Homo sapiens: one gene and its partners. The protein of the gene in region 1 interacts with the protein of each later gene in a pairwise test. Each region holds a gene or a part of one and is shown in the gene's direction. Other genes may lie near its edges.

Region 1 (7,851 bases):
GGGTCTTGTTATACTGCCCAGGCTGGTCTCAAATTCCTGGCCATAAGCGATTCTCCCACCTCAACCTCTCAAAGTGCTGGGATTACAGGCATGAGCCACCTGGCCGAATCCAGGTCTTTTGACACCAAGTGCCCTATTCATCCCTTTGCCCTCCCCTAATCTCTGGGCAGATTTGAGTGAGGCGATAGGCTGGGGGATATGGCATTGGGATACTGGGGTTGCACCTGAGGAGAAGCCAACAGCACCAGGGTCAGAATGGGCAAAGGACATAAGCACAGGCAAGGCCATTCCTGGTGGGGCTGGGCCAGGGAGCTGAGGGGCTCCTAGAAGGGCCAGGTTCCCCGACTTCTCTGAGCTTCAGCGCCTGGAGGTTTCTGGGCAGCCACACGCTTCTCAGCGCTGACCCTTCCTCTTCCTTTATCCTTGGAAAATAACCCCTAGGGCACAAACCCAACCGAAGCAATGATACTAAGTGTCAGGGCATTCCTCGACTCTCCCACCCCTGGGGAAGAGGGCCTGGCCCAAGCCCTGAGAACCCGTTCCCACCTCCACAGGCAGTGCCAGGGACTCCAAATAGGGTGCTGAAATTCCAGAAGTCTTGATATCAGACTGGGTCCTGCACCCAGCTGCCACCCGCATCCTCCCCCTGCTCCGCAGCTGCCTCTGAAGCTTGTACCCTTGCCCCCACCTCTTGTCTCTCTGCAGTCTACCTGACTGCACTTTCTGATGACCCCCACTGACCTCTCCTAGCACCCCATGTTTATTAATTACTTAAACCTAAAGTATTTACGGAGCTCCACCTATGTGCCAGATGCAGGGCTGGGCAGGAGGATTCCCATTCCACCCCAGATTCCTTTTCCTTTGGGTTCTACCCCAGATCTCCCTCTGTCTCAACAGCTCTACCCTTAACTCAGCAGCCCTGGGATTTCTCCTGTGGGAGGGCCCCCTGCATGGGTATACCCTCCACTGAGAGTAGCTGAAAGGAGCCCAGGGGAGCCTCCCAGGCGATCCCTTCCTCCCTCCAGCCCACCCCACCACAGGGCCTTCTCACTGTCTCCAACACACTGGAGTCACCCTCAGTCTTTAAAGAAGAGGATGGGAATCAGTCTCTCCCTGTTTTGTGTATAGACCCCATCCTTACACCTCAGTTGCTGTTCCGAACACCTCCCTCCTCCAGGCTGAGCAAGGAATTTCCAGCCTAAATGTTAAAGCAAAGGCGGAAGGACTGCAGGCCTTCCAATCCTCCCTAATCCTCTCATCTCTCCACCACCTAGTTTCCCCAGAGCCATCAGCTCAAGCCCTTTGTGGGAGAATGTGGAGTGGGCAGTAAGAGCTGACCCACCCCTATCGGGTCATCTCTGAGTCTACTCTGAAGTTAAACCTGCCTCACAGGTTCCCACTCCCCTTCTGCTGGACGCTGGAATGCAGGACTGATGGTGGGTGGAGAACCATTTCCCCTCTTTCCGGATTCCCCCCTGCCGAGGCTCATTACTCTTTGTGTCTGTTCTGGGAGCTTCTCACCAGGGCCCCTCCTGCTCCACCCTTTCCCGGGACTGTCCTCACAATCACGCCATCCCCCTTTCCACCTTGCTTCCCACCCCCACCCCAGAACCCTAGTGCTGGGAATCTGGAGGCCGAGACCTTCACCCCAGCTCTCCAAGAGGCTCTCTGACAAAGTGAAAAAGCCCTGAGCCACAGAGGAATCTGGAAGTGGTGGAAAGGGGCAGGCTGGTGCTGGAAGCCCGAGGTCGGTATTTGCCCCATGCTGCAAGAAGTCAGGAATGTGGCCATCGACATCAGTAGGAGAGATAAAGTCTAGCTGGCAGCTCTCCCTCTCCAGCCCCCACGCTGCACCTCCACAGGTCCCAGAAGTTTCCTAGCAGTTGGGGTGGGGCAGGAATCAGACAAGGACCTGGGAATTAGCTTGGAGAAAAATTCTAGAATCTGTTTTGATTGCTGGTAGATTTCAAAGTGCCCCAGGGTTTTTAAATGACTCAGAGAGACAGACTTCAAACCCCTTGAGCCCGTCTTTCGAATTAAATTGACCCCCTTTATCTGCCCTCCTGTATATATTGAAGCCTTCCTTACTTTGAAGGAAGGCTCCAGTACAAATAATTAGTATTTGTTTGATGAATGAGTGAGTGACAATTTACACTCACATTCACTGCCACCTGAGGAAATAGACTGGACAGGTCTTACTGTTTTCCCTGTACAAGTGAAGAAATTGAAGTTCAGAGTTAGGTGACTTCCCCAAGGTTACACAGCTAGCAAAGTATCCAGGCTGGCTGACTTAAAGCTTAGCAATAACAGTAAAAGGCAGTACGTAGCTTGTTGACTCCACATACTTTATTATAAAATACTGCCCAACTTGACAGTTCTGGAATCCAGTGGGGGAATATAAAGGTGAAAGCAGGAGAGACCCCTCTGACTGGAACCTCTTACCTCCCAGAAGCCTTGTATGCAAAACCAGTGGGCATTCATTTGTATGTTATTTTGCATCCCGTTTGCCTCCCAGCCTTCAGCAGGCCCCGACCCTCCCCTGGCCAGCTTCCACCCTGACTGCCCCCTGGCTGGCTCCCATTGAGCACTGTGGGGCTCTCCCCACCATTAGGTGACAGATCAGGAACAATCCAGGCTCAGGCTCTTTATCTGTGCTCTGCCTCCCACCTGGCAGGTCCACTGGCCAGGCTTTTCCAGGGTCCCTTCTCTCCCAGGTCTGCCCTACTATTTGTCCTCCCCTTCCCCCTCAGCTGGTAGCTCGATAAGAATCAATAGGTCCACTCCAGAGCAAAGAACACAGCCAAATGTGTCATACCAGGCCCTGCCAGAAAAACGAGCTGCTGGAGCTGACAAACTTGAAGGCCAAACACCTAAGGGTTCCCCCCAACACTTCATTCAGCAGGGATGGTCATTCAGCTTCAGGGGGCAGGCAGCATGAAAGCCTCCCTACCTCCATCCTTCTCACACAGAGGCTGGGGAGAGCATCTTGGAGGATGCAGTCCCCTGGGGCCAGGCTTCTAATCCAGACAGCCCTTACAAGGGGGGACAGGGGAAGGACTGGCTTGGAGAAAAGTCCTAGAAAAGAGGGGAGGGGCACTGGCCACCAGGGCTGGGTCGCTGCTATGATGGTCCTAGGAGTGCCTGCCTGTCCTCTCAGGCCCCATGCGATGTAGGACACATTACTTTTATTTATTTATTTATTTATTTATTTTGAGTCAGAGTTTCGCTCTGGTTGCCCAGGCTGGAGCGCGACGGCACGATCTTGGCTCACTGCAACCTCTGCCTCCTGGGTTCAAGCGATTCTCCTGCCTCAGCCTCCTGAGTAGCTGGGATTACAGGCACACACTGTGCCTGGTTAATTTTTGTATTTTTAGTAGAGAAGGGGTGTCACCATGTTGGTCAGGCTGGTCTCAAATTTTTTTTTTTTTTTTTTTTTTTTGAGACAGAGTCTTGCTCTGTTGTCTAGGCTGGAGTGCAGTGGCATCGAACTCTTGACCTCAAGTGATCCACCCGCCTCGGCCTCCCAAAGTGCTTGGATTACAGGCATGAGCCACTGTGCCCGGCGATGTGGGACACATTATCATCTCTGTGAGAGATTTTTGGTCTCTTTTGTCACCGCCCTTCTCTCCCAGCTCCTAGAACTGGGCCTGGCTCACAGTAGGTGCTGAATGCATACTGGTTGAATTGTAAATGCTCAGGATTTGTTTAATTAAGGATGCAGGAAAGGTGATATACCGGTGTGCAGAAGTCAGGATGCATTCCCTGTCCAAATCACAGTGTTCCACTGAGGCAAGGCCCTTGGGAGTGAGGTCGGGAGAGGGGAGGGTGGTGGAGGGGGCTCAGAGACTGGGTTTGTTTTGGGGAGTCTGCACCTATTTGCTGAGTGAATGTATGTGTGTGTGCATTTGAGAGCACACCTCTGTATGATTCGGGTGTGAGTGTGTGTGAGGAAACGTGGGCAGGCGAGGAGTGTTTGGGAGCCAGGTGCAGCTGGGGTGTGAGTGTGTAAGCAAGCAGCTATGAGGCTGGGCATTGCTTCTCCTCCTCTTCTCCAGCTCCCAGCCTTTCTTCCCCGGGACTCCTGGGGCTCCAGGATGCCCCCAAGATCCCCTCCACAAGTGGATAATTTGGGCTGCAGGTTAAGGACAGCTAGAGGGACTCACAGGCCATTCCACCCGCACACCACCAGACCCCCAAATTTCTTTTTTCTTTTTTTTTTTTTTTTTTTTTGAGACAGAGTCTCACTCTGTCGCCAGGCTGCAGTGGCGCGATCTCGGCTCACTGCAACCTCCGCCTCCCAGGTTCAAGCGATTCCCCTTCCTCAGCCTCCCAAGTAGCTGAGACTACAGGCGTGCACCATCACGTCCGGCTAATTTTTTGTATTTTAGTAGAGAGGGGGTTTCACCATGTTGGCTAGGATGGTCTCGATCTCCTGACCTCGTGATCCGCCCACCTAGGCCTCCCAAAGTGCTGAGATTACAGGCGTGAGCCACTGCGCCCGGTCAAGACTCCCAAATTTCAAACTCGCCAGCACCTCCTCCACCTGGGGGAGAAGAGCATAATAACGTCATTTCCTGCCCTGAAAGCAGCCTCGAGGGCCAACAACACCTGCTGTCCGTGTCCATGCCCGGTTGGCCACCCCGTTTCTGGGGGGTGAGCGGGGCTTGGCAGGGCTGCGCGGAGGGCGCGGGGGTGGGGCCCGGGGCGGAGCGGCCCGGGGCGGAGGGCGCGGGCTCCGAGCCGTCCACCTGTGGCTCCGGCTTCCGAAGCGGCTCCGGGGCGGGGGCGGGGCCTCACTCTGCGATATAACTCGGGTCGCGCGGCTCGCGCAGGCCGCCACCGTCGTCCGCAAAGCCTGAGTCCTGTCCTTTCTCTCTCCCCGGACAGCATGAGCTTCACCACTCGCTCCACCTTCTCCACCAACTACCGGTCCCTGGGCTCTGTCCAGGCGCCCAGCTACGGCGCCCGGCCGGTCAGCAGCGCGGCCAGCGTCTATGCAGGCGCTGGGGGCTCTGGTTCCCGGATCTCCGTGTCCCGCTCCACCAGCTTCAGGGGCGGCATGGGGTCCGGGGGCCTGGCCACCGGGATAGCCGGGGGTCTGGCAGGAATGGGAGGCATCCAGAACGAGAAGGAGACCATGCAAAGCCTGAACGACCGCCTGGCCTCTTACCTGGACAGAGTGAGGAGCCTGGAGACCGAGAACCGGAGGCTGGAGAGCAAAATCCGGGAGCACTTGGAGAAGAAGGGACCCCAGGTCAGAGACTGGAGCCATTACTTCAAGATCATCGAGGACCTGAGGGCTCAGGTAAGGGGTAGGAGGGACCTCAACTCCCAGCCTTGTCTGACCCTCCAATTATACACTCCTTTGCCTCTTTCCGTCATTCCATAACCACCCAACCCCTACTCCACCGGGAGGGGGTTGGGCATACCTGGATTTCCATCCGCGCACCTAGCCACAGGGTCCCTAAGAGCAGCAGCTAGGCATGGGAGGGCTCTTTCCCAGGAGAGAGGGGGAAGGGGACAGGGTTGAGAGCTTTACAGAGGAAGTGGACAGCATGGAGGGAGGTAAGGAAAGGCCTGTAAAGAGGAGGAGACACTGGCTCTGGCGGAATGGGGACTATTGGAGGGTTAAGCGGATGTGGCTAAGGCTGAGTCATCTAGGAGTAAACAAGAGGCCTTCCTTTGGGAGGAGCCAATCCAGGGTGTAGGGGGCCCAGAGTGACCAGGTGCACTAGGGAAAAAATGCCAGGAGAGGGCCAGGAAGAGGACTTGTTAGTAGCGACTCACTTCTGGGCAGGCAGGCCAGCCAGCTAGCCAGCCTGCTGAGGCTTCCCAAGAGGGGCAGAGTGCTGGGATCTGGGAATCCAGGAAAGGAGGGAATGGGGTGGGGCTAGATGAAAAGGGATAGGTGTCCAGGGAGAGCCTCTGGCTATTCCTGGGACCAGGAAGTTTTCACTAGGATACATAACACTTTTTACACACTCACCCCACCCATCCCTGGCTTTCTATTCATGGAACAACCTCTCTCTACAATCCCTCCAGATCTTCGCAAATACTGTGGACAATGCCCGCATCGTTCTGCAGATTGACAATGCCCGTCTTGCTGCTGATGACTTTAGAGTCAAGTAAGTTTGGGGGCTAGAGAGCTGGGGGTCCAGGGGTGGAGCTAAGAAGGATCTGCTCCCCAGGCTGGGTCAGTTAGGGGCTCACAGTGGGATCCTGTTAGGTGTGGGTGGATGAGAGTCAGGGTCCATCAGTGTATTCATTTAACTGTTCATTTGTATAACCCCGTTTAAGAATACTGTCCTCCAAGTGCCAAGAATGGTGCTCAGGGGATTACCACCTAATTGCTGACTCAAGTTGCTGGTTTGCAATGGGCACAGAACTTCTCTTAGTAGGTGGCATGAGTTGAGAAGGTTCTGGATCAGAGATAGGGGCCCCTCTGATCACCTCCACTCCTATAGGTATGAGACAGAGCTGGCCATGCGCCAGTCTGTGGAGAACGACATCCATGGGCTCCGCAAGGTCATTGATGACACCAATATCACACGACTGCAGCTGGAGACAGAGATCGAGGCTCTCAAGGAGGAGCTGCTCTTCATGAAGAAGAACCACGAAGAGGCAAGCAGGGGCCACTGGCCAGGCCAGGGATTGAGGGGCCAAGAGAAGTCTGGGTCGGAGAATAGACAAGACAAACCAACTGCAAGTAGCCTTGCTAAGACGTTTAGAAATAGCAGCCTGGGCTCTTCTTAAATAAGACCGTTCTGATGAAGAGCATTCTCAGGGGGTCGAGTACACCCTGGCTCACCTGAATTACAGGTCAAAATGATATGGGTTAGAAAATGAGATGAGAACAGAAGTAGAAGCAGCTAACACTAGGAGCTGGGGGTGATAAAGGAATGACAGCAGATGGAGTTGGCAGCGCTTCCTAAAAGATGGTAGAAGGAGCAGGTTTGTGAAGGGGAGGGTGGATAAAGGAACAGGGTGAAGTTACAGAGAAACCATCAGTGAGTGGGTGGCATTTCTACCCACTGGAGTAGAAAGGCCAGAACTGGCATTGCCCTGAGTGCAAGCCAAGGGGTTCCTCCTGTCTCTTCTCCAACTGTAGGCCTCCTAGAAGAGGCAATCACAGAAGAAAGGCCTTGTTGGAGCTCTGACCCTGAACCCTCCTCACTTTTGCCCCTGTCACCTTTAGGAAGTAAAAGGCCTACAAGCCCAGATTGCCAGCTCTGGGTTGACCGTGGAGGTAGATGCCCCCAAATCTCAGGACCTCGCCAAGATCATGGCAGACATCCGGGCCCAATATGACGAGCTGGCTCGGAAGAACCGAGAGGAGCTAGACAAGTACTGGTCTCAGCAGGTGCGTGAGGGGAGGGGATGGCTGCCAAGGTGTGGGAGGGAGGCAGACGGAATGAGGGGCCTGATGGACTGTCCCCATCCTGCAGATTGAGGAGAGCACCACAGTGGTCACCACACAGTCTGCTGAGGTTGGAGCTGCTGAGACGACGCTCACAGAGCTGAGACGTACAGTCCAGTCCTTGGAGATCGACCTGGACTCCATGAGAAATCTGGTGAGTGCCTTCACATCACCTGCCCAGCTCCTCCTTCACTTGGCCTCAGACCCAACCCTGTCTCAACCCAAATCCTATCCCTCATATCATGAGTTCCTTTAGCTCAGAAAGAGTCAGTTTCCTCTTTGCATTTCCCTCCACTCCTATCCCTTATCCCAGTACTTGGCACATAGCAGGTGCCCAAAAAAGTTTCCAAAAGTGAAGGGATGAGCAGTCCTGGGACTCTGGGCTCACCCTGCCCCTCCTCTCTGTGCCCCTGCAGAAGGCCAGCTTGGAGAAC
Region 2 (7,021 bases), on another chromosome or scaffold:
GTGGCAGCCACAAAGCCGTCAGTCCAGCTCTGCCTGGCAGCACTACCCCTAGTCCAAGGAGGGGGCGGGGACCCAGGTCTTCCTGCAGCGGGGCTCAGAGTTGAGGACCCCTCTCCATTGACCTTCACACCAGCTGGTGAGGTGGGGCTATTCTCCCACATGGGGAAAATGAGGCACGAAGCCACATGGCCCCAGTCACCCCGCTGTTGATCTGGTTTTGGCTCCAGTGGCAGCGCTCCAGGCCCCTTACCCGGCTCGCCTTGTCCCTCTCGCAGTTGGACGCCCCCGCCCCTGCCCCCTTCTGCGCCCCCTCAGCACTGCTCCGCGTTCTCAGTCCTCCAGCTCTGGCCCTGGGCAGCGCTTAGCCCGGTTGCAAAGGTGCAGTTTGCTTCCTAGTGGCTTCAAGGCTATGCCCTGCCGGAAGCTGTGAGCCCTGGGGAAGGGGACCTGTCCTTTCCTCCCCACATCTCTGCACCAGGCCTGGCGCCGACCAGCCTCAGGAGATACTGTGGGCGAAACAGTGAAGGAATGAAAGGGCCGTGGCGGGGGCCATCTGCCTCTCTGGACCCCCCCATGCGTCTGCGTCCGGGTGAGCAGGCAGGCCCTGATAGCTCTCCTGTGTCCCCAGCCCTACCACCCTACAAACCCCAGGACCATGAAGAACCTCCTCCCTCTTCACCATCGTCTACTACCGCCCCGGAGGACTGGGAAGACCCTGTGCCCAAGTCTGAAGACCTAGCTGGCAGCCCACTCCCATCTTGACATCACCCTCCCCTCAAGGCTGATACTCCCGCCGCAGCCCCTTCCCCACTGATCTGCCTTTGTCTCTCTCTCTTGCAGCCAACAGCTCCCTGCTCGGAGGCGGTGGCGGTGAGTGGACCTTCTGTCTTGGTGGGGGTGGGGTGTGGCATCTCCCCTGCTGGGTCTGCTCCTCCCCTGCCCCTCGCCCTCGGTGCCCATCTCACTGCAATCCACCTTCCCCACTGTCCTCACAGGGTGCCTCCCTTCCCCAGAGCTGGAGACCTGGATGGCAGGCCTGGCACCCTCACCACCAGGCAACCTGGGCCAGCTCCCCACCCCTCTGAATGCAGGCCTCCTGCTCTGTAACTGGGCAGGGGCCACAAGTGTGGTGGAAAAAACCCAGCCCTGACCTTGATCTCCCTGTGACCTTGGGCAGCTCTGTCCCTTTTGGCCTCAGTTTCCCCACCTGTGAGGGCAAAATTATCATCTCTACCCTGCCCTTGGACCTCGGGCTCCGCAGCCAGGACAGGTCTCACAAAGTCAGGGAGAGAGCTGCCAGCTCTCAGCCCTGGGATGTCTCTGTGTCTGCCATTGTTAACGACCACCACGGAGCAGGGGTTCTGGAAGGGCCAGGCAGGCAGGAGGTCAGAGGTCAGGGTGGGCCTGGCCGCAAGGGATACAGGCCAGGTCACAGATACCAAGCGGGCGTGTCCCTGTACCCCCAGCACCTGCCTCCATGGCCAGCCCACCTAGGGCAGACCACACCAGCCCCTCAGCCCAGTCCTGCAGCCCCCCAGCTGGCCAGGCTGCCCGCTGTCTGCACAGGCAGCAGGATGATTGGTGAGCTAGGGGCCAGGGGTTAATGTGCCGTCGGATAAATCCCGGGGGCCGTGTTTACGGCAGCGGTGGCAGGGCCCAGGCCAGGTTTTAAAAGGGGGAAAAATAAAAGGGGCATAAAGGTCAGGAATAAATAAGAGCAGCATTAAGAGCTGTCGGTGACCAGCCAGGATGCAGAATGGGGGTCTGTTTGTGGCTGAGATGTTTTCCCTCCTCCCCATTCTCCTCTAGCTGTCCCCATGGAGGTCACAGCTCCCCAGAGGCCTCACAGAATGAGGGGCTTTGCCGGGGACTGTGGTCCTGAAAACAGACCACCTAGGACCCTCTTCCGAAGCCTGTCCTTTTGGAGGACACTTTGCAGACCTGACACCTGCATGTCCCACCCACAGCACCCTGCCCTTCCTCCGTTCATTGATCACCCCTGTGTGCCGGGCCCCGAGCTGGGTGCCAGGACAGGTACTGCCGGGCACAGATGGGCCTGGTCCCTGTCCCCTGAGCTCCCAGTGCAGATGAGAGCACCACCAAGACACAGGGTGATCTGTGGTGTGGGGGTGGGGGTGGGAGTGGCACCATAGGAGCTTGATGAGGAGTGCCTGTCCCTGCTTGGGCATCAGGAAGGCTTCTAGAAGGAGGTGGTGCCTCCTCTGCAATCTGAGGGATGCGTAGGCATGAGCCCAGCGAAGAGTGCTGGGAAGGGTGTCCCGGGCAGAGGGAACAGCGCAGGCAAAGGCCTGGAAGTGGAGGAGAGGGAGGCTCTGACACAGGAATGACTGGAGCCCAGCCAAGAGGTGGGGAGATGGGAGATGGCCCAGGATCCCAGACAGCCTGTGAGGAGCGAGATCTTTAGCCATTCAGTTCAGGAAGATAAAGGATCACAAAGGGGGTGGGCCTTTCTGTCCCACATCAGCTCATCGAGTCTCTTCTGCCCACCACCCTGCCAGGGTTCTTGTCTCACTCAGGGCCTAGGCCAAGTTCCTTAGCATGGCCCGTTAGGTCCCCAGTCACCTCTCACAGTCACCTCCGCACTGCCACCCTCTCCACTTTGCTCCGGCCACCCTGGCCTCCCTGGACAGGCCCCGCCCACTCCTGCCTCCGGGCCTTTGCCCTGGCAGTTCCTTCTGCCTGCAATGCCCTTGCTCCAGTTGTCCACGCGGCTGCTCCGTTCACTCCGACAGGCCTTGACTTGAATACCATCTCTCAGGGGGGTCCACCCTGGCCCCTAGCTGAAATTGCAGCTGCCTCCCCTGCCCCATGCTGGCACTCCCCCGGCCCCCACCCTGCTGTGGTTTTAACTTTTCTGAGCACCTGTCTCCTTCTAATGTGCTGTATAATTTACTTACATATTGTGTTCCTTGTCTTCTACCCCCTGAAAATGAAAGACTGTATCTGGGGCTGGCACTTATAATAAGTGCTCAGTAAATGTTTGTAATCCCAGCCTATAATCCTAGCACTTTGGGAGGCCGAGGCAGGAGGATTGCTTGAGCCCAGGAATTTGAGACCAGCCTGGGGAACATAGTAAGACCCCATCTCTACAAAAAAAAATCAACTAACCATGCTAGCATGTGTGCCTGTAGTCATAGCTTGGGAGGCTGAGGTAGGAGGATCACTTGAGCCCGGGCGGTTAAGGCTGCAGTGAGCCATGATTGCGCCACTGCCCTCCAGCCAGGGTGACAGAGTTAGACCCTGTCTCAAAAAACAAGGAACAAGGGGCCGGGCATGGTGGCTCATGCCTGTAATCCCAGCACTTTGGGAGGCCAAGGCAGGTGGATCACCTCAGGTCAAGAGTTCGAGACCAGCCTGGCCAACATGGTGAAACCCTGTCTCTACTAAAAATATAAAAATTAAGGCCAGGAGCGGTGGCTCACACCTGTAATTCCAGTTCTTTGGGAGGCTGAAGTGGGCAGATCACGAGGTCAGGAGTTCAAGACAAGCCTAGCCAACATGGTGAAGCCCCGTCTCTACTAAAAATACAAAAATTAGCTGGGCATGGTGGTACACACCTGTAATCCCAGCTACTCAGAAGGCTGAGGCAGGAGAATTGCTTGAACCCCATAGGCAGGGGCTGCAGTGAGCCAAGATCACACCACTGCACTCCAGCTTGGGTAACACAGCGAGACCCTGTCTCAAAAAAAAAAAAAGTTTATTGAATGAATGAACTACAGGTAAAGGTGGAGATGACCCTACACATTAAGCAACGGACTTACCCAAGGGCAGCTGGTGGAAACCAAAGATGTTTTGGCAAATCCAGGAGTGGCTCACAGATGGCCTGTGACCTCACTCTAGGAAGTGGAGGGGCCCTGCCCTGGCCACTCAGAGGCATGGCAGAGGTCTCTCTGGTTCTCCTTCCAGCATTTAGGGGTGCGGAGCGGCTGGCACAGGCCTCTCACACAACCTGACTGATGGAGAGATGGACGGGGCGGGTGCCCCTGGAGGAAGTGGGCCCGGAGTCCAACCTTTTAACATGGGCTGAGATTTATGGAGCCGCCGCCAGCACTTGCTGGGACTGTCACTCTGCTAATGTGATTGGAACACAGTGGAGGTGGTGGGGAGGGGGCTGTGGTAGGGACGATGCTGGGGCTGGAATGGAGCCCAGCCTGGTCCCCGGAGGTGCTCTGCCCTCCCCTATACCCCTGCTCCTCCCACCATCCTTTGAGTTCATCCAGTCCTAATCGCCTACCTGCCCAAGTTAGACCCCATCTGACTCTGCCCAGACACACCCATCTTCCCGTGGGGTCCCTGGACATCCCTCCTACAGGAGTTCAGGCCTCTACCCGCGCCCCTCCCATGACCAGCCACCCATTGTTCGAACACGCACAAGGGCCATCCTGCCTGCCCTGGCCACTCTGCCCAGAACCCTGATGCACTGCCCTGCTCCATGTCTTCGTCCCGCAGCCCTGATTCCCTGCTTGCGTTTTGTGTTTGTTCTTCATTGCCTGCCTCCCCACCGGAATGGACTCCCCCGAGGGCAGGGTTATGGGAGATTCTGAGCTCCTAGAAGAGCTTCCTGCTTTGAAGTAAATAATTAACATCTGTGGTGCAGTGAGTGGCACCCTCTGTGTGCCCTGGGAGCCAGGGACACAGCTCTCAGTCTGGCACCCACATCCCATCCCCTCACCCTGGGGACTGCCAGTCTGCCAGTCCCTCAATGGAGAGGGGCAGCAGGCAACACCCTGGCCAACACCCCAATCAGCATCCTAGCCAACAGCCCAACCAACATGCCAGCCAACACCCCAACAACATGCCAGCCAACACCCCAACCAGCATGCCAGCCAACACCCCAAACAATACACCAGCAAACACCCCAACCAACACCCCAACCAACACCCCAGCCAACACGCCAGCCAACACCCCAACAAATACCCCAACCAACATGCCAACCAGCATCCTAACACCCCAACCAACTCGTGCCAACCAATATGCCAGCCAACACCCCAACCAACATGCCAACCAACACCCCAGCCAACACTTCAACACCCCAACCAACATGCCAGCCAACACGCCAGCCAACATCCCAACCAACACCTCAACCAACACACCAGCCAACATCCCAACCAACACCCCAACCAACACATGCCAACCAACATGCCAGCCAACACCCCAACCAACATGCCAGCCAACACCCTGGCCAACACCCCAACCAACATGCCAGCCAACACCCCAAACAATACACCAGCAAACACCCCAACCAACACTCCAGCCAACATGCAAGCCAACACCCCAACCAATACCCCAACCAACATGCCAGCCAACATCCCAAACACCCCAACCAACTCGTGCCAACCAATATGCCAGCCAACACCCCAACCAACATGCCAACCAACACCCCAACCAACATGCCAGCCAACATGCCAGCCAACACCCCAACCAACACACCAGCCAGCACCCCAACTAACACCCCAAACAACACTCCAACCAACACCCCAGCCAACACCTCAAGCAACATGGCAGCCAACACCCCAATCAACATGCCAGCCAACATCCCAACCAACACATGCCAACCAACATGCCAGCCAACGCCCCAACCAACACACCAACCAACACCCCAACCAACACCCCAGCCAACACCCCAACCAACATGCCAGCCAGCACCCCAACCAACACCCCAACATGTCAGCCAACATCTCAACCAACACTCCAGCCAACACCCCGGTCAACACCCCAGCCAACATCCCAGCCAACACTCCAACCAACACTCCAACCAACACCCCAACCAACACCCCAAACAACATACCAGCCAACACTCCAACACCCCAACATGCCAGCCAACACCCCAACCAACATGCCAGCCAGCACCCCAACCAACACCCCAGCTAACACTCTGGGCAACACCCCAACCAATATGCCAACCAACACCCCAGCCAACACACCAACCAACACCCCAGGCAACACTTCAACCAACACCCCAACCAACCCCCCAACCAACACCCCAGCCAACCCCCCAACCAACACCCCAACCAACACCCTGGGCAACACCCCAGCCAACACCCCAGCCAACACCCCAACCAACAACCCAGCCAACACCCCAACCAACACCCCAACCAATACCCCAGGCAACAACCCAACCAACATCCCAGCCAACACCCCGGCCAACACCCTGGTGTGGGTAGTGGCGTGGAGTTCCTGCCAGGAGGGGCCGGCGCAACTGGGGCTCAGAAGATGGGGCTGGGACTGGCCTGCAGGGCTTTGGGGCCCGAGCCCACTGTTTTTACGGCAAATGTGCGGTGATTTAGAGCAGAAGAGGGCTGCAGTCTCAGGGGAGCAGAGAAGGGAGTCTCCCGGGCACCCCCAATGCAGTGAGAGCCCCCAGGGGCTGCTGGGGCTAAAGGGACTTAACCTGGAGGGCACAGGACTCCTGTGCCTGCCTCACTCTGGGCCTGGACCCCCACCCACCACACCCTGGGGCCGAACTAGATGGTGCTGGCAATGCAGTGAGTCCTGGGGAAGTCCCCCTACTCCCTTACTACCCATTCTTCCCTGGAGCTCTCTCTGAGTTGAGGGAGCTATGCCAAATGCTGGGACTCAGGGCTTGGCTCTGCCTTCAGGGAGACCCAGTTTGGTAGGAGGCTTCCCAGCAGAGGGAGCATTTGACTTGGGTCCCGAAGGCTAAATAGGAGTTCTGCAGGTAGAGCAGGATGGACGGGCCCCCCAGGGGGAAGGCCTGTGTCTGCTTCAGGAAGGCTTGATGGGCTTGGGGCAGCTGCCAGCCTTCCCGACAGACCCTTTGGCCTGGTGTCTGCCAGGCCCCCTCCTCTCTCCCACCTCCCTCCTGGAAAGCTTTTACTGGCTCAATAAAAACATTTTTTAAAACACTCTCCTATTGTATGGTAAGAAGGGAGGCAGGTCCTAAATCAGGATGGGAATCGACAGAGCCCTGACGCCCGTGTCTCTCCTGTTTATTAGGACTGAAATGTTTACTCGGAGATAAGGAGCCGGCTTTCTCGGG
Region 3 (7,021 bases), on another chromosome or scaffold:
TGTCCTGAGAATGTAGGCTAGGCTAAGCTATGATTTCAGTAGGTTAGGTGTATTAAATGCATTTTCAACTTAAGGTAGTTTCAACTTACAACGGGTTTATTGGGACGTCACTCCATTGTATGTGGAGGAGCATCTGTACCTCCATAAAGGGAATCTGGGCAGAGGACCAACAGTATTTGCTACACTCAGTTACCTCCTCTTCAAAATGATAACAAATATAGCTCTCTTACAAGGTCACCGTGAGTATTAAATGGGATAATTAAAGCACACAGGGCAGATGGTAAGTATCTACATATTGTAGTTCCTTTCTCTCTCATATTTAATTTTCTTGTCTTAATTGCTTCTAGCCGAAGACCGCATAATTTAACATGATTTCGTTTCTTTACTAGGATGAAGTGGCCCACCATCAAACCATTCCAGTACAAATTGGAAAAGAGATAGAAAAAATAACACGCAAAAAAGTGTATGATTTAATATTTTTACTTTGAATCCCTGCCAGTCCAAGTTATGTGTGCACACTAGAACAAGAGTACTAACCATTGGACACATTAAATTACTATGATAATTTTAGAAATTTCTGCTTTGGGCCCTGTCTAGGTTGTTTATATCAAGTTCTTTAAAAGAAAGTAATGCACCAAATTTCTATCATTCATAGTATTTATGGCTTAATTATGGGTCAAGATTCTGTTGCCAATTTATAAATCATATTTTTATGGAGAAGTTCAATTGACTTTAACAGAGCGGTGCATGGGATAAATTATGCGAACTGGTTAGAATTTCATAGTCTAGAAGTATATCAGCCAGGCAGCAGCCCAAAGCCCAAATAATAGTAACTCCCCACTTTGCCACCCATTCATGTGTATAACACTCCTCAGATATTCAGAGTAGATTGGGAGGCAGAGGTCATTGAGGAAATTCTCAGTGTTTAAGGAACCAAAAAAGATAAAGATTTTAAGTGAAGATACAAAAATTCTGGAAAAATAATATAATTACTCTGGTGACTAATCTTAAGGGGAAAAATTAGGCAGGCACTAGTAACTGTTCTAAAAACTAAGCTCACCAACATCAAAGTTGAGAAACTCAGGTCAGTTTCAGGAGGCTGGTCAGGACGAGGGTTGAATCACAGGAGATGGTAGCAAATTGGGATCTGCACAGAAAGTAGGGAGGCTGGGCAAATTCCTGCCTTCCGTGGCACTCAGTGGAGATACCCTCCAAGTCCCACCCATCTGTGGTCTTTACCCACTGCTGAGATCATTGAATTTATGACTATCTCTTCTGCTGCATGGTTAGAAAGCAAGAATAGGTAAAGCCAGCATGGCCTCAAAATAAGGCAAGTGTGTGTGTGTGTGTGTGTGTGTGTGTGTGTGTGTGTGTGTGTGTGTGTGTGTGTGTATCCCCTACAGAGAAATGGAAAAGAAAAAAATTGTCTTGGAACAAGAAGTCAAAACGCTAAATGACTCCCTAAAGAAAGTTGAAAACAAGGTTAGTGCTATAGTGGATGAGAAGGAAAATGTAATAAAGGAAGTTGAAGGCAAACGAGCCTTACTTGAAATCAAAGAACGAGAACATAACCAATTGGTCAAGCTATTGGAATTAGCCAGAGAGAATGAAGCAACTTCATTAACTGAAAGGTTAGTTATATTTATGTATGTTATGTTCTGTCATCTAAATTTTTCTTCAATTTATATTTGAGAATTCAAAATCTCACTTTGGTGTTGAGTTAATAAATATTTAAAAATAATTTTAAATCAACTTTTACCCTTAATATATTATCAAATAAAGCACTTTGAAGTATTTTTTGATACTTTACTCAAATTTTCTCAATTTTCTGTTACCAGATTTTCAGGATATAATCTGTTGTATGTTGTAAGTTTCTGAATGTGCCTTTGGAAAATTTATCACTGGAGTATGTTATGTTCAGGGATTTTGCCAACAAATGAATGATACTTCTTAGGCCATCTTGACTTTTTTCTAACAGAAGCAATTTCGTGGTGTAATTCCCTAGGAGAGTTTTATGTCCTGCTTTTTTGTTTGTTTTTTGAGATGGAGTCTTGCTCTGTCGCCAGGCTGGAGTGCAGTGGCACGATCTTGGCTCACTGCAACCTCTGCCTCCCGGGTTCAAGTGATTCTCCTGCCTCAGCCTCCCGAGTAGTTGGGACTACATGTGCGCACCACCACGCCCGGCTAATTTTTTTTTTTCTTCTCATTAGAGACAGGGTATCACCATGTTGGCCAGGTGGTCTCGATCTCTTGACCTCGTGATCCACCCGCTTTGGCCTCCCAAAGTGCTGGGATTACAGGCATGAGCCACCGCGCCCAGCCTATGTCCTGCTTTTAAGTAAAATTTCAAGGAAACTGGAGGCTTCTATCTCTGCCAGTCTGTTATTTTTTTGGGGGGTGGGGGTTATAAGACTGCAGTTCTAAATGATACCAACTCACAAACCTAGTTGCCTTTGGCATTATTTACAATTTATGATTCCAACATGAGAATAGTCATGTGTGTATATACTGAGCATGCTGTCTTTTATTAAACTTTTAAGTTCAAGGTTACACATACAGGTTTGTTATAGGTAAACTTGTGTCATGGGGGGTTGTTGTACAGATTATTTTGTTATCCAAGTATTAAGCCTAGTACCTATTATTTTTCCTGATTCTCTCCCTCCTCCCATCCTCTACCCTCCAAAAGGCTCCAGTGTGTGTTGTTCTTCTCTATGTGTCCATGTATCCTCATCATTTTGCTCCCACTTATAAGTGAGAACATGTGATATTTGGTTTTCTGTCCCTGCATTGGTTTGCTAAGGATAATGACCTCCAGCTCCACCCACGTTCCTGCAAAGGATATGATCTCATTCTTTTTATTTTATTTTTTATTTTTTATTTTTTGAGACGGAGTCTCGCTCTGTCGCCCAGGCCGGACTGCGGACTGCAGTGGCGCAATCTCGGCTCACTGCAAGCTCCGCTTCCCGGGTTCACGCCATTCTCCTGCCTCAGCCTCCCGAGTAGCTGGGACTACAGGCGCCCGCCACCGCGCCCGGCTAATTTTTTGTATTTTTAGTAGAGACGGGGTTTCACCGTGTTAGCCAGGATGGTCTCGATCTCCTGACCTCATGATCCACCCACCTCGGCCTCCCAAAGTGCTGGGATTACAGGCGTGAGCCACCGCGCCCAGCCCTCATTCTTTTTTATGGCTGCATAATAGTCTGTGGCATATGTACCACATTTTCTTTATCTGGTCTACCATTGATGGGCATTTAGGTTGGTTCTATGTCTTTGCTATTGTGAATAGCACTGTGATGAGCAAATGTGTGCATGTGTCTTTAGGATATAACAGTTTATATTCCTTTGAGTATATACCCAGTAATAGGATTGCTGGGTCAAACGGTAGTTCTGTTTTTAGGTCTTTGCCAGAAGAGATTGGGAGCCAATATTCAGCATGCTGTCTTGATAAGTTTTGAAAAACATTTAGGACAGCTGATAACAAAATCATTTTCTTCTTCTTCCTTTACCTGGAACAGAGGGATCTTGGATCTCAATTTACGCAACAGTCTCATTGACAAGCAGAACTACCATGATGAACTTTCTCGTAAGCAAAGAGAGAAAGAACGAGATTTTCGAAATTTAAGAAAGATGGAACTGCTCTTGAAAGTGTCCTGGGATGCACTTAGGCAAACTCAAGCACTGCATCAAAGGCTTCTATTAGAGGTGAGGGCTGTAAACTACCATCTGATTTTTAAGCTCGGTGCTAACTTTTGAAGTAAAAATATTTTAGGAAGTTGTTTTTGCTGCCAGTAGAGAAGAAGAAAATACAAGTAACAGAGAAAAGGTAATTTTCAAATGCGTCAAGCCTATTATGAAATCTATAGTCCTATAATGTTTCGTAATCTCATTTTTCTAACCCAAGATTAGAGAAATGTCTTGTTTGGATCAGTCATCCTTCAGCCTGACCTGGGGAAATGACTGGACTATCCAGTTCTAGAAGAGCTAGAGGGTTCACTGCAGAATGGGGCCAAGTGGATCATTATTTTCACCAGTTGAAGGAGTCAGATCCGGCATGGTGTCATGGCAGACTATAACAGTGAAGGACTAGATCAAATTACATAGACATAAATGATCAGCAGCCTGCACTTCCGACTAGCCAAGGGCAATCCAGAACCCAATATCAGGCTGCCTGGCTAATTCTGTGCAGGGTCAGAGGTGTACTCCAGTCAGAAGATGCTCAAGACAACTGTTACCTGCCTCTGTGTTCCCAAGTGAGGGGTCTGGTTGCCCCTGGCTCTCTTTTCTCTCAGAGGGCACTCCCTGTGGTAAATGACCAAGCGCCACTGAAAGGGCAGAGGATCCTTGAGAGGGCTTCAGCCTTGTGCTAGAGCCTTCCTTGAGCGAAAAAGGGGTCAGCCTCTGAGATGAAGCAGCTAGGTGTATAGAAACCTTCCCCGTTCTCTTCAGGACTGTCATGCTCCAGAACCTTATGGAGGGTCATGACCTAAGAAATTTGAACAGGAGTTTCCAGCTGTGGTAGACACCTCTGATCCTAACCTATGCCTAGTTCTCCTCTCCTCCTGGGCACATAGAAAGTTTATACTTCCTTGCACCCTTTGCAGTTGAGCAGAGTCATATAACTCATTCTGGCCAGAGGATTGTAGACAAAAGTGACACGTGTCACTTCCAGCCTATAACATCTAATTGCCAATGTGAGACCCTCTAGCTGTTTTTCCCTCTCCTGTGGTAATTGTGGAAGTGCATGACACCATGGAGGTGCTGTAAAATGGGAGCAGCCGGGAATGCTGAGCCAACAGTGGTCTCAGAGTCCTCTTGATTGCCCACCGGCTTTGTAGGAAACAGCTTTGGTAGTTCGAAGCCATGATATTTGGAGGTCGTTTATTTCTGTAGCATAACTTAGCCTGTCCTGACTGAAAGACCAACCTTAAGCAACATGTGTGAAAAAATCGGTTAGGGTTATGAGTGTTACGAACAACTAGGACTTGGACTTCGTCTTGCTGTCAGATGGCACTTATAATCTTTTCAAGAAGTTCTCTGGTTGGGCACAGTGGCTGCTGCCTGTAATCCCAGCACTTTGGGAGGCCGAGGTCGGCAGATCACCTGAGGTCAGAAGTTCAAGACCAGCCTGGCCAACATGGTGAAACCCTGTCTCTACTAAAAATACAAAAATTGGTCGGGTGTGCTGGTGCACACCCATGATCCCAGCTACTTGGGAGGCTGAGGCAGGAGAATCGCTTGAACCCGGGAGGCGGAGGTTGCAGTGAGCTGAGGTTGTGCCACTGCACTCCAGCCTGGGCAACAGAGCCAGACTCCATCTCAAACAAAAAAAGGAAGTTTTCTATCTCAGTGAGGCAAAATGTACTTTTATAGTCTTTTGCAAAACCAATAAAACATGTATGTTCTACTATATATGTGTTTTCACAAATAACTTTTATATAACTGTTATATATAGTATATTTATGATATATATACTTCTTATTTAATCATTTTATTGCAATTCCAACAGGTAGATTTATTTGTATCACTCTGAAATCTCTTTAACTCTAGTAGTACTTTTTGCCTTAAAATATTATTTTGTCTGATTTTAGAATAATAACATCAGTTACACTATCTTTTGGCGTGTTAGATTCTGCATGGTATTATTTACTTTGATTTTTTTTTCTTTTTCTTTTTGGAGACAGTCTTGCTTTGCTGCCCAGGCTGAAGTGCAGGCACCATCTCAGCTCACTGCAATCTCCACCTCCCGGGTTTAAGCAATTCTCGTACTTCAGCCTCCCAAGAAGCTGGGATTACAGGCATGTGCCACCAATACACAGCTAATTTTTGTATTTTTAGTAGAGACAGGCTTTCACTATGTTCGCCAGGCTGGTCTCAAACTCCTGACCTCAAGTGATCCATCTGCCTCGGCCTCCCCAAAGTGCTGGGATTACAGGTGCGAGCCACCGCACCCAGCCCTATTTACCGTCACTCTTTCTGTGTCCTCATTTTGGTGTGTCTCATATACACAGCACATACTTTTCAAAATCTAGTCTGATAAGTTCTGCCTTTTTAAATTCTTGTATTTAGTCTAAAAATTAATACTTAATGTAATTGTGGATATATTTGTCCTTATTCTGTGATATTACTTTTGCTTTCTCTGTATCCCATCCGCTTCATGTTCCATTTTCTCTCCCACATTTCCTTCCTTGGGATTAATCAACGTTTCATATAGTTCTGCTATCCTTGTTTTAGATATGCATCAGTTAGTTTTACATTCTATTTCTATTCTTTGGGTGGTTACCCTGAAGATTACAACAGTCATCTTTGACTTACTAGAGTCAAATATAAGTTATTTGTATTTTTACTACTTCCAAGACAGTGCTAATACCTTTGATGATTTTAACTTTACTAACCTTTGCAACTCTTATGCCCTCAAACATATTTTCACTCCAACTTTCCAAGTTATTCTTGTTGGAAGCATTGGTTTACTATAAGCTACTCCATCTTAGCCCGAAGCACAGCACGTTAGGATGTTAAATTGGAACTTTGGGCAAACACAGACCCTGTGGCCACCCCTCCTCAGTCATAGTAAGATTTATAGTAGACCGCAGTTATAATGTCCATTCAAAGTACTGACGGAAACCTCAGTGTAATGAGTAAGACTCTTAAAACCAGCAAGTGTTGCTTGTACTAATAAAACAATTCCTGTTTATTGATCAAATAACTGTTCAGTAAGATTTCTTTAAACAATGGGATAAAATGTATAATTACCTTTAATAACCAATTTTGGTAGTTATGGTAGTAAGTAAAGTTAATCCATTCAATATGCTTCTAATGCTGAATCATCAAAGCATTCTTAATATTGAAGAGTAAGGTAACCTAAATAGAAGCAATAATTTGTCTCATAAATTAATACTTCTTAGCTCAAGAAGGGTTATACATTGGTAAAAATCACAAGATTGGTTCTAAAAGACTACACACAAAAAAACAGACTTAGGTTCACTTCTACCAGAAAATCTAGATTAAGTACCATAGAAGGGAC
Region 4 (7,798 bases), on another chromosome or scaffold:
TGAATTAATGAATTCACTTCTTGTCCACATTTGGAATCTAAAACTCTAGTCAATGTTACTACCACAACATTCTCACACTTCTCTTTCTCCGTACTATTGAGAGCTTTATTATGCCAGAGATGTCTCACAAGCAGGATGCCAAGATCAATGATCTGTCCTGAGCTAAATGAGGACTGTCTTTCCTAGATGTCAGAGGATTGAGGTGGAGTGTAAGAAATACTCAATTGGGAACCAGTCATTAATTGATAGTTCCTTGATCTCTTTTGGTCTGGAGATTTCTCATTAGTAAAATGAGCTAACCGGACTGTGTCAATTACTTTTCAAGCATTTTGACTGTGATCATGATATACTCTCACTATGAATGTATATGTATGTATATATCTTGAAAAAACTTTCACTGAATTATTCTTACAAACAAAATGGAATGCATCTGGATAGTTTCTATTCTATTCTTTTTTAAAAATAATTCTCGTTGTGGTCACAACCTATTAAGTTGATTTGAAGAACTGCTAAAGGAAATCTGCAGCAGTTTGAAAAATACTTTCCCACGTGACCGCTGAGTCATTCATTCATTAACTGTAGTAGGTCAGTAATTTTCCAACTATTTAATGGACATCTATGTAGTGCTAGGCACTGTGATGAGAGTTAGGAAAATGGCAATGAAAAAATGAAGACCATCTTCTTATGACGCTTATATCCTGTGAAGTATGTTCCATCAGCTTTGACAAGGAAAGAGAATTCCAACGGAATCAGCTAAAGCTATTGAATAGGTTTGACTTAAGGGAGGAAAAAGCAGCAGAAATACAGGTTTTTCCAAACCCCAGGCAGGAGCCCACATCAAGACTAAAATAGTCTAGACCCAAATGATGTAATTTTTGTGTCAAATGAAGATCTCCTGTGGATCCTAAATCTAATCACTGGATGTTTCTCCTTTTCCCATACTTTGCAAAGATCGAAGTGGATGACTGGGCCCTCTTTTTAGATAAAATATTTCAGAGGCCATGGAGTGATGGAAAGGAATGCTAGAGAGCACTCTGACTGAGGGACACCCCCTGGCCATATTCACGTGCTCACCACACCCCCAAGTACCTGCAAAACCTGCAGGTATGTAATTGGTTGTTTTCTTTTCCAGAAATTTTGCTGTACCATTTTTACCCAGCAGAGGGAAGCAGAACACCAAATCACTGCAGAAGTAATCCAGGACACATGCACACACAGCCCTTTGGTATTTTTTGTCCTGTGAATTTAGGTATTATAGAATGAGAATGTCACAGTTTTGAAAACAAATTCTGGGTAAAGTCAGCTCTGGGCAAAATGCTGAAAGAGGAGAGGTTTATTTTAGCTGACTGCTTATGGCCTGTCCCATCAGGATTGCCTGGAAGACATTACCCAGCCCACAAGGCCCTCTTTCAGGCTTGGCTCCTGGCAGTCTGACCTTTCAATTTTTTTCCATTCCCCAAGTTTTGGAACACCTGCTAAAATCATGCAATATTTCTGTGGTCTTCTGAGTCAGGCTTTATGCAATGGCCTTTCAATCATGGCATTTCCTACTTTAGCTGCCAGGAATGGTCAGTTTCCTGCCCTCTTTTATATATTCCACTAAGTGGGAAATGGTGGGTACAAACTGAAGTGCAATGCATGCTAAGTGGTCATGTAGACTGGAGTGCAGTGGCATGATCTCTGTTCACTGCAACCTCTGCCTCCCCGGTTCAAGCGATTCTCCTGCCTCAGCCTCCTGAGTAGCTGGGACTACAGGCATGTGCCACCACGTCCAGCTAATTTTTGTATTTTTAGTAGAGATGGGGTTTCGCCAGGCTGGTCTCAAAATCTTGGCCTCAAGTGATTTGCCCACCTTGGCCTCCCAAAGTGCTGGGGTTACGGGCATGAGCCACTGCACCCGACTGGGATACAAACTCTTAATCACAGCAGACCTTCTGAGGATCCAGGTACCTTTCTGAAGCCCTGCCTTTCCTCCCGCCCCACTTCTTTACAGACTTGTCCCTGTGCCTTTTAACACTAATGCAGTACGTCTGACTTCCCCTCCTCAGAGATGATAGCATTTTTAGGAGGCCATAGACCAACAGAAGTTGTCTTCATGCATTTCTGGGGTCCGAAAGTAGTTAAAACACACCCCTTAGCCATTTAACTGGCGTGCTTTTCTGGAAAGAAAGGCATGAGCAGAGGGCACTCCTCAAATAGAAACAGATGCGATAATGGACAATAGGCTTAGGCATGACTCAGCCTTTCCAGCTCCACACGCTCCTTCCCTACCCAACCCAGGAATATAGATCCAAGTGCAACCATGCACTTAGTCAAGAAGAGCTCTTCAAAGTGTGTCCTAATGCCATGAAATTTACTTTTAATAAGAGAGTGGGTAGGGAGGGATCATGGAACTTCTAACAGTTTAAGGTTATCATGAAGAGTCAGCAAAAATTACAGTAACCAGTGATTCTGGGTAATCAGCGTCAATGAGGTGGAGAGAAGTGGGAGAGGTGCCTTATCTTTGAAAGGTTAAACTTGCCATCTTTTTTTTTTTTTTTCCTTTTTTTGAGACGGAGTTTTGCTCTTGTTGCCCAGGCTGGAGTGCAATGGCGCGATCTCGGCTCACTGCAACCTCTACCTCCCGGGTTCAAGCGATTCTCGTGCCTCAGCCTCCCAAGTAGCTGGGATTACAGGCATGCGCCCCCATGCCCAGCTAATTTTGTATTTTTAGTAGAGGTGGGGTTTCACTATGTTGTCCAGGCTGGTCTCAAACTCTGACCTCAGGCGATCCACCCGCCTCGGCCTCCCAAAGTGCTGGGATTACAGGCGTGAGCCACCGCACCCAGCAAACTTGCCATCTTGACATATTCCTCCAGTGACTGGCATCCATCCTCAGTTGGTGTCTAAGGTATAATACAACGGACAGGTACTTTAAAAGTTTTCAGTAACTTCCACAATGCTAACCAATGTTTGAGGAATATGATTACATTTATTTTTTTAAAAAATAAGCAAGTTTTGTAAAAAGCACCAAAGGCAAAAAAACTTCATTGAAGTTTTTAAAAAATGTATTAAACTGCTGCATTAAGGTAATGTACTTACAGAAAAAGAAAAAGAGGTTTAAAAAAGGACAAGAACAGGAAACAGATGTAGTAAGGGGAGAAGAGTTAGAAAGGAAACTCTCTGGGCAGGGTATGGTAAGCAGGCATCAATAACTGCCTCAGGTGCCACTTAATGCATTCATGTCCTGGGCCTCCTGAGCGTCACACAAATTAGTGAAACCCAACAGGGGGATTTGCTCTGACAAGCAGCAATAAAAGTAAAGCTGCTGTCTGTATTGGCAGTAAACTACCTGTGACACTGAGATATGCCTTCTGTGTCTGGCTTATTACTCTATCATGTTCCTAAACTGGCTTGTCACAAACGCCTGTTACAAAAATCAGATTCCTGGCCTCCATGTCAGACCTAATGAATCCAAATCTCTCGGCACGTGGGTTTTGATTACTTTTTATTTTTAAGCTCCTCAGCAATGATGGATAGCTTTCTCCCCCCCCCCCCAAAAAAAATGTTTCAGGAATAGGATTATGTTTCTTTTAAGAAAAAATAATTTAAGCAAGTTTTGTAAAAAGCATCAAAGGCTATACCTATGATGCTGACAATATTTCACCTCACTTATCTGCTTCTTTCCCAAGACTTAGTCTTTCTCTTTGAAGGAGCTGTGTTCCTCCTAGTGGTTCTGATCTTTTTCATTGCAGCTGCAGGTACAAACGAGGGATTGAGGTGACCACCCTTCAACCTGCAGCTCTTCAGTCAACAAAAATCAAGTACCTATCAGAGTGCACCCTGCCCTGCAGCACATATTCAAGGCTTTCCCTACAAAAACAAAGGTGTTTAACCGAAGGGATTGATGGTAGAATAAAGAGAGCTGGGCGCGGTGGCTCATGCCTGTAATCCCAGCACTTTGGGAGGCGAGGTGGGCGGATCGCTTGACCCCAGGAATTCGAGACCAGCTTGGGCAACATAGTGGGACACTATCTCTACGGAAGGAGGGAAGTAGGGAAGGAAGGAAGGAAGCAAGGAGGGAAGGAGGGACGGAGGGAAGGAGGGAAGGAAGGAAGGAAAAAGAAAAGAAAGGAAAGAAAGAAAGGAAAGAAAGAAAGAGAAAGATTGATTTTAAAAAAGAGTTAAAAGGGGAAAAATACAATGTGGCAGTGGGAGAATTAAGGATGAGATGATTGCATTAGTTCATTGACCATCCCTGAGCAACAGAAACACAATCATGGGTAATCCTCGGCCCCTGCCTACAAGAAGCATGGGTCTAGTTTAGTAGCACTGCCAACTGGACCGACCATTTACACTTCTGTGTGAAATGGGGCAGAGGGGGGAGAAAAGAGTGCCTGAGCTCACAGCGTTGGCGGGGCGCAGTGAGGTCCGCCAGGACTAGGTGGAAGGAGAGAAGGAACGTCCCTCTCTGCAACTCATCTAAGGGCCTGCTCGGACCCCGGATCTCACAGCGAGAACTACCGCCTCGCTACACCCGCCTTTCCCCGCGCCACCCAACAGCTCCCACGTCTCATCCTCCGGGAGCGGGGCGGGGCGAAGCGGAAGAGGAGGGGCCGACACAACCACGCCCACTAGCCGCGCTCCAAGGCCGCGGCCCACTTACCGCGAGAACGCGGAGTCCTGCGGATGGCGCACGCGCAAACCTCCTGTGATGCCTGCGCCTCCTGGCCCCGCCTTCCGCTCGTGGGAGTTCCGGATGTTTAGCGTTACCATGGATCCTGGAGGTGCCCGCGAACACTGCTTGTCGCCTGGGCAACCGGAGAGGACGAAGCAGGACCTAGGTGGCGGCGGTGGTACCGGCTGCAATGGTGTCCAATCCCGTGCATGGCTTGCCCTTTCTTCCGGGCACGTCCTTTAAGGACTCTACGGTGAGCAGTTATCTGCCAGACTCCCACCTGTCCCCACCTTCCAGCAGCCCAGGAGGTTTCCCCGCTCAGTGCACCTCCATTCCCCTCCACTCAAGTCTGTCTTCTCTCCAAACACGTCTTCTGTCCTGACCCTGTTCTTTATTCTGGGCCGAACTTCTGCCGTTCTTCCCTAGCCATCCTCATCCCCTCTCTCCGATCCTTTGCCCTCCGCCTCATCCCTCTCTAGTTTTTTCCCACTCCATCTTGGCAGTGTGTTGGCGCCTTCATTCTCATCCCGTTAGCCGCGTTCTTTCTTACGGCCCTGCTCCTCCAAGCCCCTGCCTCTTGTCCCTTTAGATCACTGTTTCCCCCACCCTACTCCCAACCTATCTCTGGGCCCTCTCCCTAGCTCGTTCTCTCACATCATAACCTGTCTCCGTCCATCGCCGCCCTTAAAACCCCCCGCCACTATGCACCTTCAACCTCATTCCCACAGGTCCGTCATTCCCGCCCCACCTCTTCCTCTTCTGAATCCTGTACCCGGTAGTATCTCCCACTCCCAGCTCCATTTCCTGTTTTGTATGTATATCGATTCCGCTCCTCTTCTTTCCGCCAGGTCTTTTTCCTTTCTTCTTTATGCTTGCATCCAACCCCATTCTTTTTTCTCCATCTTCTACATTTTCCACAATTTAGTCCCATCCTCTCCCCATTCCTTTCTTTCTCCGTTGCGGGTTTTCCCCAAAACTTGCTCACCTTCCTCCCAAAGCATCTTTCCCTGCTTTGTAAGAGATATTCCTTTCCAGTTCCCTCAAGAATTGATTAGTTGCTGTTTATTCTTCCCCGGCCCTGTTCTTTTTATTCTAACGTTTTTGTAAAAAGATTCCTGTTTAGATTTTGTTTTGCTCCTTCCCCAACCTTGTGTTTTTATTTGCATTTTCTAGACAAAATTTTTTAAAAAGTAGCAGCAGCTTGGATTCTTTTTTTTTTTTAAACTCTTGCCACAGTTTAGCTCTTAAAATTATTTGGTTTGTTTTAATTCTGACAGGGCTACTGAAATGTATGTGCTGAAAAATCAATAATGAGATTCAGTAGACTGATCATCATAGATGAGCTAACAGTAGTTTATGTTTATATAGTTTAATACTTTAAACTCTTGCCTTCCTCTCCAGCTTCACAAAGTTAAAATATTTTGTCAATTTATTTTCTTTGGAAGAATCAATTTAGAATGAAATCGAAAGTTTGGTGAGAGAATTTGTATTCTGAATCTCTGTAATTATCCCTGCATTAAGACACAACATCATAGATTTTTAGTTTCAGTGGACTTTTCAGTTTTATGTAATTTAGAAAATGTTGTAGGCACTTGCCTGCCCTATACAGGATGAGCTTAAGCTTTTGGTGTTGGTGAGTATAGACAGGGCTGAGTTGATACAGGGAATTACAGAGGTGTGGATGGAAGTGCAAAGCTCTAAAAACATATTGCTGTATTACAAGTAAGAAGAACTGTGCATTGGACATATTTCAGATTTTAAATACACTGGCCAAGTGTCAACCAATTTGCCCTATTTGAAATTTGAAAAGCATCGTCAGTATATCTTCAGCAGTGAAGGACTGAATATGTATTAATGTAATTCTAAAGACATGCAGATAAGAAGTTAAAAAATTTTTAAAGGGGAGTGGGAAAACGATTTTAAAAAAAGACACACAGAAGGTGAACCATAATGGACAAGAGGGGTGGAAAGGGCCGAGGTTGCCTTGCCTGGGGTGTCTGTGAGTTATGGCTGAATGATGGTAGAGACATTTGTCTAAAACAAAGAAATAAACTGAAGTCACTGATGTTGCTTCTGTCTTTGGTGGTGGAAGAAGAGCTTGAAGTTCCATAAATTACCCAATGAGGATGTCAACTCAGCGCATTTTGTTCTATGTCATGTTTACTATATACCTGGAGCAGTCCCTGTCAACTGACTTGTGACTCTGAATACATGACCTTTAAAAACAAATGTCATACATTTGTTTTTATGGGTTATATACAGTTTATAACCCTTTTAGCAAAAGAAGTTTATTCTGTTGTACCTTTCATGTTAGTACAGATCTTGAAAGATGGTAGGCTGGGCTCTAAAGCAATTAGGATGTAGAAAGTTTTTTTCATAAAAATATTTTTTATGATTAATCTTAAATTGTATCTATGTATATATTTGAATATTATAGATAAGTAATTGTGAAAGTATCCTCACAACAGAAAAAGGAAACCATTAACATAACCTCTAATTTGCCTTTCTACTCTTTTTTATTTAATCTTTTAAATAAAAATGTGTTCATTGTAAAAAATCAACATAATTTAGAAATGTATAATACAGAGGACCAAACCAGTCTCTTCATGCACATATTTCCATGCTTATAATTGCAGTACACATATAATTTTATATGTTGCTTTTTCAGGCTTATTAAATCATAAATATTTTCACCAGGTTGCCACGTGATCTCTAAAATCAATATTTTAATGACAGCACCATAATCCATTGAGTGAGTTTTCGATCATTTACTCATGTCTTCATATGACTGTCTTTTAGATTGTCTTCAACATTTACCATTGTAATGGGCAGCTTCAGGCATATAGTTCTTTCTCATAATTCTGAATCATATTCGTAAATAAATGGTCGGGGTAGAATTATTGAGTTCAAGACTTTAAATATATACCATCCAGTTGCTTTCCAAAGAGTTGTAAGAATGTATCACTGTCATTGTGACAAGAGGGACAGGTAAAAATAAATTCATTCCATGTAAAAATAAAATTCACAGAACCGTATCTTCTAGGTTCTACAGTTTTTACGGCCCCAGATATCAGATGAAAAACATGAGAAGACTAGTGAAAAACTTAAGAGTATAGATGAGATACTCTTTTAATCTCTCAT

The links.
Region 2: the proteins of KRT18 (region 1) and MACROD1 interact in binary tests that used the Homo sapiens proteins (3 or more experiments, as listed by UniProt).
Region 3: the proteins of KRT18 (region 1) and CCDC146 interact in binary tests that used the Homo sapiens proteins (3 or more experiments, as listed by UniProt).
Region 4: the proteins of KRT18 (region 1) and EFHC1 interact in binary tests that used the Homo sapiens proteins (3 or more experiments, as listed by UniProt).

What each region holds. Positions count from the first base shown.
Region 1 is NC_000012.12:52,944,286-52,952,136, forward strand, and holds the start of KRT18 (keratin, type I cytoskeletal 18), read left to right. Parts: upstream 1-4,832; 5' UTR 4,833-4,888; coding exon 4,889-5,305; exon of another isoform or gene 5,306-5,575; intron 5,576-6,042; coding exon 6,043-6,125; intron 6,126-6,464; coding exon 6,465-6,621; intron 6,622-7,195; coding exon 7,196-7,360; intron 7,361-7,445; coding exon 7,446-7,571; intron 7,572-7,833; coding exon 7,834-7,851. UniProt on the Homo sapiens protein: Involved in the uptake of thrombin-antithrombin complexes by hepatic cells. When phosphorylated, plays a role in filament reorganization. Involved in the delivery of mutated CFTR to the plasma membrane.
Region 2 is NC_000011.10:64,009,101-64,016,121, reverse strand, and holds part of MACROD1 (ADP-ribose glycohydrolase MACROD1), read left to right. Parts: intron 1-840; coding exon 841-870; intron 871-7,021. UniProt on the Homo sapiens protein: Removes ADP-ribose from aspartate and glutamate residues in proteins bearing a single ADP-ribose moiety. Inactive towards proteins bearing poly-ADP-ribose.
Region 3 is NC_000007.14:77,258,606-77,265,626, forward strand, and holds part of CCDC146 (coiled-coil domain-containing protein 146), read left to right. Parts: intron 1-389; coding exon 390-463; intron 464-1,403; coding exon 1,404-1,631; intron 1,632-3,515; coding exon 3,516-3,702; intron 3,703-6,750; exon of another isoform or gene 6,751-6,858; intron 6,859-7,021. UniProt on the Homo sapiens protein: Essential for sperm flagellum biogenesis and male fertility.
Region 4 is NC_000006.12:52,415,564-52,423,361, forward strand, and holds the start of EFHC1 (EF-hand domain-containing protein 1), read left to right. Parts: upstream 1-4,778; 5' UTR 4,779-4,847; coding exon 4,848-4,910; exon of another isoform or gene 4,911-5,418; intron 5,419-5,444; exon of another isoform or gene 5,445-5,505; intron 5,506-7,798. UniProt on the Homo sapiens protein: Microtubule inner protein (MIP) part of the dynein-decorated doublet microtubules (DMTs) in cilia axoneme, which is required for motile cilia beating.